Homo sapiens: one gene and its partners. The protein of the gene in region 1 purifies or fractionates together with the protein of each later gene. This does not show direct contact. Each region holds a gene or a part of one and is shown on either strand. Other genes may lie near its edges. The genes, in order: CCNO, SATB1 and PRRC2B.

Evidence for each region.
Region 2: the proteins of CCNO (region 1) and SATB1 purify together in Homo sapiens (affinity purification with mass spectrometry; one large-scale study listed by BioGRID and IntAct). This does not show direct contact.
Region 3: the proteins of CCNO (region 1) and PRRC2B purify together in Homo sapiens (affinity purification with mass spectrometry; one large-scale study listed by BioGRID and IntAct). This does not show direct contact.

Annotation. Positions count from the first base shown.
Region 1 is NC_000005.10:55,231,503-55,235,251, forward strand, and holds the start of CCNO (cyclin-O), read right to left. Parts: upstream 2,107-3,749; 5' UTR 2,022-2,106; coding exon 1,641-2,021; exon of another isoform or gene 1,045-1,640; coding exon 859-1,044; intron 359-858; coding exon 1-358. UniProt on the Homo sapiens protein: Specifically required for generation of multiciliated cells, possibly by promoting a cell cycle state compatible with centriole amplification and maturation.
Region 2 is NC_000003.12:18,345,191-18,348,839, forward strand, and holds the end of SATB1 (DNA-binding protein SATB1), read right to left. Parts: 3' UTR 187-3,649; downstream 1-186. UniProt on the Homo sapiens protein: Crucial silencing factor contributing to the initiation of X inactivation mediated by Xist RNA that occurs during embryogenesis and in lymphoma.
Region 3 is NC_000009.12:131,477,580-131,481,228, reverse strand, and holds part of PRRC2B (protein PRRC2B), read right to left. Parts: intron 3,486-3,649; coding exon 3,280-3,485; intron 2,756-3,279; coding exon 2,610-2,755; intron 1,978-2,609; coding exon 1,836-1,977; intron 1-1,835.

The DNA of each region.
Region 1 (3,749 bases):
GGTGGTCTCCCAGTCGCAAGTCCACGGGCCGCGAGACCCGCAGCATGCGGTCCGCCAGCGCCAGGCAGCAGATCGCCAGGAGGGAAGGGGAGTAGCTGGTGAAGGCATAGTCGGCCAGACTCAGCTCTGCCACCCCCCGCGCCAGGGCTTGCGCTTCCAGAGCTTCGGAGGCCTCAGCCTGCCCCGCCTCCACGCGAGCGTGCGTGAAATGCTCCAGGAAGAAGCTAATGGTGGGCGCACCCAGGGTGAAGTGCAGCTTGTGCAGCACGATGCACTCGAGGTTGCAGAGCTGCTGCCGGGAGAAGGCGCCGCAGCAGAGGGCCAGAAGCTGCTTCACGCGCGGCGGGTGCACCTCCACCTGCAACACAGGGCGCACTCAACCCCGCTTTGCGGCTTCCCGGGCCCCAGGCCCACCCCAGTATGACGCCCGGACTTTCCCCATCCCTTCCAGAGAGACAGCCGGGGCTCTGCCTCTCCACTGCTTCCACGTAAGTGACCTAGAGCGTACTTCCAGCGCAGTTGATCTAACTACTGTCCAACTAAAAAAAAAAAGCTTGGGAAATTTTGAAGGCTTTTTCGGAGGCTAGACTAGAGGTGCCAAAAGAGCTATTTGGGACTGATTACAGCTATTAGTCTATTAGGCTATTTCTTTGGAAGCCGAGTGACAGGATTTTTCGTTTGTGGAGAAATTGTGAAGTTAAGGCTAAGGGATATATGCGTATGCAAATGTCTGATAAAATGAGTTCTGGGAACCCAGCACTGAATCGTGCGCGCTGGAAAGACGGGCGGCCAGGGAGTGGCGGGGGAGTTTGGCTGCGTCCCCAGATGCCGCGTGTACCTGTTTGATACCCCAGGTACCTGTTTGCAAGCGATGAGCAAGGAGGTGACCCCAAGCAGCTGGAAGCAGTCTGCAGCCACCGGCGTGGTGGTGAGGAAGCGGTCCAGAGTGTTCACCGTCAGGCACAGCGACTCGAAGGAGAGGCCGAATTGGCGGTGCACCGGGATCAGCCAGCTGAGCAGCTTACAGCGGGATTCCGCCGTCACCTGCCGGGAAGGAGGGGGGAGGCGGGCCCGCTGGGCTTAGGGTGGAGAGGGACTGTGGAAGGGAAGGAAGGGCCAAGAAGAATCGGGGAGCTTCCCAGGAGAGGGGCAAGAAGATTTCAGAAAGAGAAACGCAATGGAAACTGGGAAACGCGTGGGCCGTGCTGAGCCGGAACACCGGGATTGGGACCTGGCGCTGTGCAGAGAGCGTCGTACACGTTACCTCGCGTAATGGGCTCAGCAATTCAAAGGAAGGGGAGGGGTTCCATTTTGCAGATGAAGAAAGAAGCTCAGGGGTGTTAAATAACTTGCCCGAGTTCGGTAGGAGTCCAGACTCAACCCGGAAACGAATTCCTCTCTACCGTGCCCCAGTAGCCAGCTTGGGACGGGGCAAGTCCCTCAAGCCGTCTACGCCCCACTTTTCTCCATCTGTAAAATGAGGCCGGTGACGCCCCTCCACGGCCCCTTGTGCTTCGACTCGGGGCGGGACCTGGGCTGTCGCGGGCCCGGGCGCTCGGAGGGCCGAGCCGGCAGGAGAGGAGAGAGCCTGGGAGGAGAGGAAGAGCGGCGGCGTGGAGCTGGCTCTACCAGCACCTCACTTGTGGCTGCCGTGCCAGCGCCTCCCGCGGGTGGAAGTGGCTCTCCTGCGCCTTGCGGAAGGCGTAGCAGCTCTGGCCGTAGTCGCGGAAGGTCTGTAGATCTAGCTGCGCCACGGGCTGGGCCGGGCCGGGCAGGGGGCTACCACCCCGCGCCGCAGAGGGGCTCTCTGCGCCGTCTGAGCCGGAGCTGGGGGACTCGAACAGGTCGCAAATGCCGGAGTCTCCCGGGAGCGGGCACGGGTTCAGGGGATGCAGCGGCTGCTTCCTCCGGAGGCGCGGACGCCTGCTCTTCTTCACCGGGGCGCGAAGGTTCTGGTCGTTGTCCCGCCTCCCCGCTCGGGCGGCGGGGCTCGAGGGGCTGGTGGGACAGGGGGTCACCATGATGCGGCCGGGTGGCCGCTTTACTACCTTCAACGCCCGGGCTGCGGCGGGCAGCAAACGCGCACTCGAAAGTGCGAAGGAGGCCGGGCTCAGAGGCTGGCGCGGTCCTAAGTACCCGGCCGGCTCCTTCTCTCTACCACACCCCCGGCCTCTCACTGGCTGAGCCCAGAGCGGCACCGGAGCCGCGATTTTCCGGCTGGAGAACCACTCGCCTCAGGGCGCAGGCAGCGCGTCGCCTCCGCGGCCCGCCGGGGGGAGGGGGAGCTGCAGCGCGCGCCAGGCACCCGCCTTTCGCGCCTGCGTCCTGCGTTACCTGGGCAACCGGAGCCCGGGTCGCTGCGGGAGCCCGGGTCACTGCGGAGCCCGGGTCACTGCGGAGCCCGGTGCACGGAGTGGGAGTAGGGCTGCGGCGGGCGCAGCCAAGCGGCTCCGCTGCGCCGGTTAAAACATTCTCCCAGGGGGCATCTCTCTGTCCTTGGCCAGATGGTCTCGACACGTGCGGGCACCTCTAACCCAGGTCGGTAATTTTGTAAAGGTCTGATCCTGAGTTCCAAACGAAAGTCGGGCTAGAATTCTGTCGACACGGGAAAAGTTTTCTTCAGTGACCCAAACAAGCAATAGTGTTAATTCGGTTGCGTTTGTCGGTTTTGTTTCGGTGGGTACCGGAGTAGCCAGTGCCCTTCCTTCCGCCAGCCTCGGGGAGCAGAGCCTCAGAAGGGCCGTTTGTGCTGCGGAATAGATTGGAGCTCCACCAGCCAGCCACGCTTTCGCGCTCAAAACAAAACGGAAAACTGCCGGATCAACCTCAGTCGGCAAGCAAGTCTGCAGGCCGTGAAGACTTTCTCCCACACTTTTCACCCCAAGCCAAGCAAGCTGGGGCTACAGCGGTTTAAGAACATTGTTGGAAAGTTGCATTTCGAGTTTGATCGAATTGCTCACAGCCTGTTCCGTTTTAGGTCATTAGCTTCTGGCCTTCTGCCCCGCCGGCAGCCCAGTCCTTGGTTTTTCCCTGCTTCCTGCGTCCGCTCCTTCAGGGTGATAAACTCAGGGAAATTAAAGCTGGAATGGGGACGCCCAGGCCGACCGGGCGTGGCAGTTTCCTCAAGGCGCCTCGGGTTTAGTCCACAGACTCCCGTCCTGGTAGAAGCTGGAGCCCTTCTGTGGCCTGAGTGAATCTTCCTGAGGGTCTCTGACCCTATAGGAGAAGGGGCTGCAGGAGCACAAGTAGCCCATAATCAACCTCACAGGCACTTAGCAACGGCAGAAAGCTCAGGTACCCTCAACCCTGGTGTTTTCCAGAGGCGAGGCTACTGGGTGCCAAACCAAGAGCAGGTTCAGCCACCTAACCTCATTCCAGAAGAAAGCTGATAAATGTGTCTGCTCAAAGTACAAGTTTCTGTCTATGAAAATTTAGTAGATGGTGGGATGGTGTCTCCTAGAGATGCAGGTGAAAGAAAAGGAATGGATTTTGGGTTCTGACCACTGTTCCTCCTATTTCCCCATAACTCTGAGCAAGCTCTCTATTCTGCCCTAAATAATGTCATTTGGGCCGGGCGTGGTGGCTCACGACTGTAATCCCAGCACTTTGGAAGGCCAGGGCAGGTGGATCACATGAGGTCAGGAGTTTGAGACCAGCCTGACCAACATGGTGAAACCCCATCTCTACTAAAAATACAAAAATTAGCTGGGGGTGATAGCACACACCTGTAATCCCAGCTACTTGGGAGG
Region 2 (3,649 bases), on another chromosome or scaffold:
TTTTGATCACAGTAAGTGTATTAGCAGCTGAAAATAATTGTTGGGAAACGGTAACCACACAACCTTGGTACGAGGCAAGAAGCTGTAATTGAGTTTTGGTAGTGTTCTTTTGATAGAATTAAATTTGGAGATATATGCTCTCTGTAAGTAGGGTAATGTAAGAAAGTCTTAAAAATGTGGCTCATCTTTTAAACATTAATTTCAAACTATTTTTATTTAACATTTGGTATTGTTAAACAGGTATAGTATTCAGGACATACACCTTCTACCACAATTTCTTTAATTAGGGTACTTTATATTTTATCAAAAATGTGCATATTAATAGATTGTAGTTTAGCCTTTGTCAAAAGACATGCAAGTATTTAGTATTTACATTAAAAGGATTGCCTCAGAAGAAACATTGAATTCATAAGCCCTCTTAAAAAGTCAAAAATATGCATAAAGAAGACTAGTATTGATATTTTCTGATATTTTAGATATGATTAATATTTTGGACCTCCATTGGTTTCCACACTATCATGCAAATTTCCAACTTGCTTTAACACAACAGTTCTATCAGCTGTATTAGAGGGAATACACATTTTAATTGCTCTTTTTGAAAATATCACCAGGCAGTTCAGAATGTCTCATTTATTGAGAATATTGTGACAATCAAAGACCTTAATATCAGCCAGATGCTAACAATTGGGAATAGGGCAGAATTTAATAATGGAATGTATGGGATTCTCATTTTTACTCAATCTTGAATCATCTGAGAATGTTTTCTATTCAAGCCAGTATTTTTAGATAAACACAGATATAGATATCGCTACTTTGAAAAAAATCACTTATTTTAAACTCAGAATTTCTTAGTACTAAATGCTAACCAATACACATTTTATACATAATATGTACAGACTTTGTTACCAAGCGCCACACAACTAGGACATACATATTAGTTACCTTGGTTTTCAAAGGTTGTCAACTCTGCATATTGTGTGGCAAGGAGATACTATCAACATTTTTTTTTGCATAATGTGCAAGTATTATATGGCCACAGAGTGTAATACAAATTAGTGGCAAAGTGCTGAGTGAAGGGAATCCATGACAGATTCAGATGCACAAGGTTGAATATTACCCGTAAACTACCTGACTCTGCTAAGGTCTTAACAGCACAAAACGCTATGTCATGCCCAGCTTTTAAAAGTCTCTGAAATACTTGGACACAATGAAGCTTGTTAAAGGAATTTTACCATAGCCACAGGTAACAAGAGGAGGATTGGCATGAGCGATAAATGACATTGGGGGAGCAATATGGAAGATCATCTGGGCAAGTCTTTTCTAAAATGTGCCATCTTCCCTGAAAACAATTTTGCTCACTCCATCCTATCAGTTTATTAACATGTGCTTGTGTGTGTGTGTGTGTGTGTGTGTGTGTATGTGTGGGCATTTAAAATATCAAATTATCAAAACCACGCTGACTTTTAAAAGTTAAAAAATCTAAGTGGGAATTTTGTTAGCATTGTTATGTTGATTACCAAACAAACATTCAAACATTCATCATTTCACTGAAAACACTATTTCAAAATAATTTAGGTTATTAGGAATTGGAAAGTTATTTGCAACCCAAACTTAGGGGATATAAGGAAGAGGAAGATAACTTCATGGCATTTGAGTTTCTATTTTATTTCCTATTTTTTAAATACATGAAACCTAGTTTCTATTTTCTTAATTCAAATTCCTTTGGCTCAAATTATTACTTTTCTGAACTCTAGTGAGCCAGAATGTTTGTTTTCTTACTAAATAAAAAGTGGCAACTTTTCAGTACAATTTTAAGTTTGCAACAAACCAGCTGCCTTCAGAGGAGCTTAGCTGTGCTTCAAAAGTAAATGGAACTTTAAAGCTTTATTGAAAGTTTTCAATGATTCCACTTCAGTTTCTAAAGTACAAGTTCAACACTAAAGCAGCCCAGTTGCCTACCAATAAGCTCATCAGGGCCTGAGAAGATGGTAGGCAGAAAGAGAAGGGGCAATTGCAAAATGGTATCTCAAGCAACCCAGATACCCCTACTAGCATCTAGGAAACAAAGTGAGGGAGCAAATAAAAGAAAAATCACCCCAAACTGTAATGCTGGCCTCAATCCTGTGACCATTAGCACACCTCATTTTATATTCTGGCATTTTACTATGTTTAATGTTGCAAGAATTTTGAAGATTGTGTTTAAATACCAGGTGTGTTATTCCTATTTTCTTCATGTAGCTCTTATAGTTATGAGATACACTTACGAGCTCAGTTATTAACTTATTCCACTTATAACTTGTGAAAAAAAAAAGCTAAGGGGTTTTTATACAGAAGGTCCATTTTTTCCCCTACTTATTTTGTTACTATTAATGGCCTTTAGAAATATTTATACATTAGCTTAAGGAAAAGCATTGCTATAAATGAAGTATTGTGAAATAAGCACAGATGAATCCATTCTAACAACATAACTGCTAGAGACTGGATTTGTTTTTGTCGGAGAGTCTTTTGACCATCCTATCTCTACTTATTAAGCAAAATGTTAACCAAACAGGTTATTTTCATTGTGAAATTTCATACCTATTTAAAAATGAGCATGTGTTTGTGATTTAAATTTACAGTGTTTCAAGTAACTTGTCAATTGCTCTTTTTAAAATCAGTGAAATAACAAGTTATTAACATGCACCTAAATGAGAGGGCCATCCTTTGACTCCTTTAGTTACTTCACATAAGCAGACAAACCCTACCATGTCATACGATACAAACAATTTTAATTGTGTAGTTACAGTCAATAACCACTCCTAGTCAGAACATTTCTGCATAAAGAAAATTGTGATACACTTATAAAAACAGCCAGCTGTAACAAAATAGCTGTTTTCATAGCCATAAACTCATAAAAAAGAAATACACCTTTATACAGAAATTTTATACAGATGTAGCTTTAAAATTGATTGTAAACCAAAGGAAGACACATTGCAAACATCAATTATTTTCACATTAATTGCATAATTTTCTAAGGTGATCTATTAGTTTTATTTACCTAAGCTTATTTGCATGATAGTAAAAATTGCATACAACAATAAGAGTGAAGCTTATAGTATGAATTGCTTGGATAACATAGAGCACTTTTTATAGGCAACTGTGTAAAGCACATTTTCTCTATTTAAAACTTTTAAGACACTTTGTTTTACTGCCCATCAAAATACATTTATAAATAGAAAAGAATCAGTATGGTAACAAGAGAAGCAATATTACATTTAACGGAAACTTCCAAAAAATTAATTACAACATGATGCTGCAGGATCTACAAATAAATAATGAGGACTAAATTGTGTTTCACATTTTCTTTTCCTTTTTTTAAAAAATCATGTAACAATGAGAATGAAAAAAAAGTACAGTGAACTTTTATTTCCAAAATAAAAACAAATTTGAATTACGGCAGTGCCATATAATACAAGGCATTTGTTGGCATATGTCATCTTTAAACTGCATTCCACAGTCTATAGTTCTTTTGTAACATACAATAGAGTAACAAACTCTTTTTTTTCTTTTTTTTTTTTAAATAAGGGGCAAGTTTCCAAAGATCAGTGTGGAGTGCTACAGAAATAATTATAGGAGAGGAAATCATAATCACAGAAGGTATAATGCTTGT
Region 3 (3,649 bases), on another chromosome or scaffold:
ACGCCATTCTCCTGCCTCAGCCTCCCGAATAGCTGGGACTATAGGTGCCCGCCACCACGCCCGGCTAATTTTTTGTTGTTGTTGTATTTTTAGGAGCGACGGGGTTTCACCATGTTAGCCAGGATGGTCTCGATCTCCTGACCTGGTGATCTGCCTGCCTCAGCCTCCCAAAGTGGTGGGATTACAGACGTGAGCCACCAGGCCTGGCCTTCTTTTTTTTTTAAACAATAGAGACAGGGTCTCACTCTGTTGCTGGTCTTGAACTCCTGATCTCAAGTGATCTTCAAGCCTTGGCCTCCCAAACTGCTGGGATTATAGGTGTGAGCCACCACTCCTGGCCAAAGTTGGTGGCTTCTACAGAGTCTTTGAAAGATCCCAGCGGGTATTACTAAAAATTTTTAAGCTCACAGACCACTTTTTGAATGGCCATGGATCCGGAGCCCAGAAAAATAGATATGCATGCAAAAGTTGACATGCTAGCAGGGGGTGGGGGCACATATCTGCAATCCCAGCTACTCAGGAGGCTGAGGCAGAAGGATTGCTTGAACCCAGGGGTTCAAGTCCAGCCTGGGCAACATAGTGAGACCCCATCTTTAAAAAAAAAAAAAATCCTTTCACATGCTATTTTAATATCCAAGGGCTCTCTGAAGCCATCCCTTGGACACAACCCCTGGTCTGAGAAACCAATGAGCCCCTGCAGAATTCTGGAGTAAAAGATCTGACAAAAGGGGATGATGACTCACACCTGAGAGTCACATCTGATTCACACCTGGCAGCTCAACCAATCTGGCACCTGGGCATTTTTGGACACCAATACTATGACACCTGTCACTCAGCCACTACCAAATGTAGTGTTATTGATGTTTTATCAAATGGTTGTGCTTCCTTTCCATCAAAGCTGGGCATGTTGAATGTTATTTTGTAGTTTGCAAGAACCAAAGTTTTCACCGAGCACATGAGGACAAGCTATGTGGAAACAGTGAAAGAATCAAGGCCCAGAACTCAGTGTCTCGGGTGCTTGTCCTATGACCCTGGAGTCCCTGAGTCAAGTCCCTTCCCTCTAGAAGCTTCAGCTGCTTTGCAGAAAAATGAGCTGGCACTAGGTGACCTCTCCAAGCTCCCCTCATGGGCCTGAGCTGTGAAATATCGAATGTCCATGTTTTTATTCATCTATGCATGCTCTGGGCTAACAGCGCAGGGCCCTGCCTCACCTAAACCTCAAGAAGAACCTATTCTATGAAAATAGTTTTCTATTTTATAAGGAAAAATTCCCAGAAAAATTACATTTGATATAGAATTAAAAAAAAAAAGTTTTCAGGGCAACAAATGTTCTAAGAAGTAACGTATACCGTCTTCTGGTCTCAGTTTGCCTTTCCAGAAGAGCATTCAGGGAGGGGTTTCCAGAGCCTTCCCCATGTTAAGAAAAGGGTGCACAGCACAGAAGAGAGCTCCTGAACTCTTGCGGCTGGTCTATCTGTCATTTGCTTCTCTTCCATAAGTTAGTGGGAGAAAACGACGACCAACAAAGAAGGCCATTCCCACTACTGTGTGATCTAAGCCCAAGGGGCCATCCTTTTCCAGATCACCAGACTAATGAATGCTCTGCTCTTCTACCAATTTTAGGCAAGGAAAATTGTGTATCCGTTTGGGGGTTGCAGCAGCAAATCACTCAGACGGCATTCAGCGACTAGCTCAGCAGCGGAACACAGCAAACAGGTACTCCATCTGTATTCCATCTATATTCGTAGCTCAAAAGCAGGATCCTCCCCAGAAGCAAACCCAGTGTGTGATGTGACCTTGGGTGCCACAGCTGGGGTCACACCCCCAACTCTCACCCTGGCTGCTGCTCTCCCAGATCTCAGTGCCCAGGCTGCTGCCAGGCACGGTCACGTCACCTTGCTCCAGACATAAGTTGTTCTGCTTTTTTGCAAATCGAGGAGGAATACGGGAGGAAAGGCCTCGACCTTTGACAGGCACCTGAGGGGAAGAAAGGATGCTGTAGTCTAGCCAAAGGCACCAAGACTGACAAATTCTCCCCAGGATAAGTATCCCAGGTACCAAAAATCACACCACCTGAAAATGCTCCAGAGATGTGTGGAACGCTCGTCTCCCAAAACCTCAAGCAGAACTGCGATGCCAAGCAAAGCACCCCCCAAGAAAGACCTGAAAGGCCAACGGACTGTAATCTGTGTGCAGGTCCAGCCCTGACTCCATTTTAGTATAGCGTTCACGATCCACTTGACTTGAGGGAGACAAATCTCATTCCACTCAGGAATGAGGAGTGGGGAGGAAGGAGAAGCTGGGAGGTGACGGAGGTCTGCATCTTGCCTTGGACAAGTTTCCACTGTTATCACCCTAGAGAAGTCACCCTCTTCAAGACTCGGTTTCTTCCACTGCATAACAGTGATGCCACCACCTATTCCTACATTGATAGAAGGGCCTTGGTAATAGCAGGAACGGGGAGACAATGTGTGCTTGCTAAATACTCCTTTCTTCCTCTCTGCCACCTTGAGCTTGACCGAGAACTCCCTTACCCTCTGGCTCTGGGTTTCCTGGGCATCTGCCAGCCTGCCCTCCAGCCCCATGCCCCCCCACCCTCCGCCCCTCACCTGCACGGCCTGCTCCTTCTTTCTTCTCTCTTCCTCCAGCAGGCGGCGCTGCTTCTTGGTCAGGACTTCGATGAAGCCTTCGCCCACCATAGAACCCACCTCACTCTCCTCCCCGGGGCTGGACCCGCAATTTTCAATGATGGCACCTGAACCAAGATTTCACGAGAAGGAACAGTCTTTCCACTCACCAGGAGACAAGAACAACCCAATTCAACAGGCGCCTGAGATCTAGCATCAGGCTCGACAGAAACCTGGACAGGACTTCCGCACTTTTCTCAGGCCGCCTCTGATCTAACACATTGTTACCCCAAACCAAAGAGGCCCAAGGGCACAACTGAGAGAACACGCAAAGAGCTTAAACCCCAGCTCTGCTCCTACAGCTGTGTGTGACCTCGGACACACCACCGAACGTCTCTGGGCCCCAGGCTTCCTCTCTTTAAAGCCCGGAAGCTGCAGGGTGTCACGGGGATTCAACGGGCTGTGAGCAACACTCGGTGGGAATCCTACCTACTCTGCTCACCTCTACAGCCCCAGAACCCAGCCCAGGGCCTGGCCGAGCTGTTCCGAAAGCTAAGGTACTCAGTGCAAGGGCAAACTCGGGAGGCCCGAGGACTGCATGGCCCCTGGTTCTGCCTGAGTTCTTTCCCCTGAAGATATGAGGATGACTTACTTCCATAGTTCAGGTCAAACTGTTTCATGGCCTCTCCCTGTTCACCTGCCCTCGGAGCAGCCAACTTGGCCTCCTTCTCTGCCTTTTTACTGGAGGCTTCGGGAAGGTCAGCACTGGCATGGGCTGCCCGCTCCAGGGCATAGGGGGAGTGGCCACTCCCACTGCTGCAGCCACTAAGACCTCCAGGCAAGGCCTCGTCTGGGGATCTGTAAGGGAAAGAGGATCTTGTTAACCAGAGCTGGGGAAGGAGGGAAAACACCGCACGTGCACACAGCCTGCACACAAGCCCGGCACCCTGATCTAGGCCCACTTCCTCTAGCTGACTCCTCGGGTGGGGAGGAGCGGCAGGCTGGCCACAGTGCATCCATGT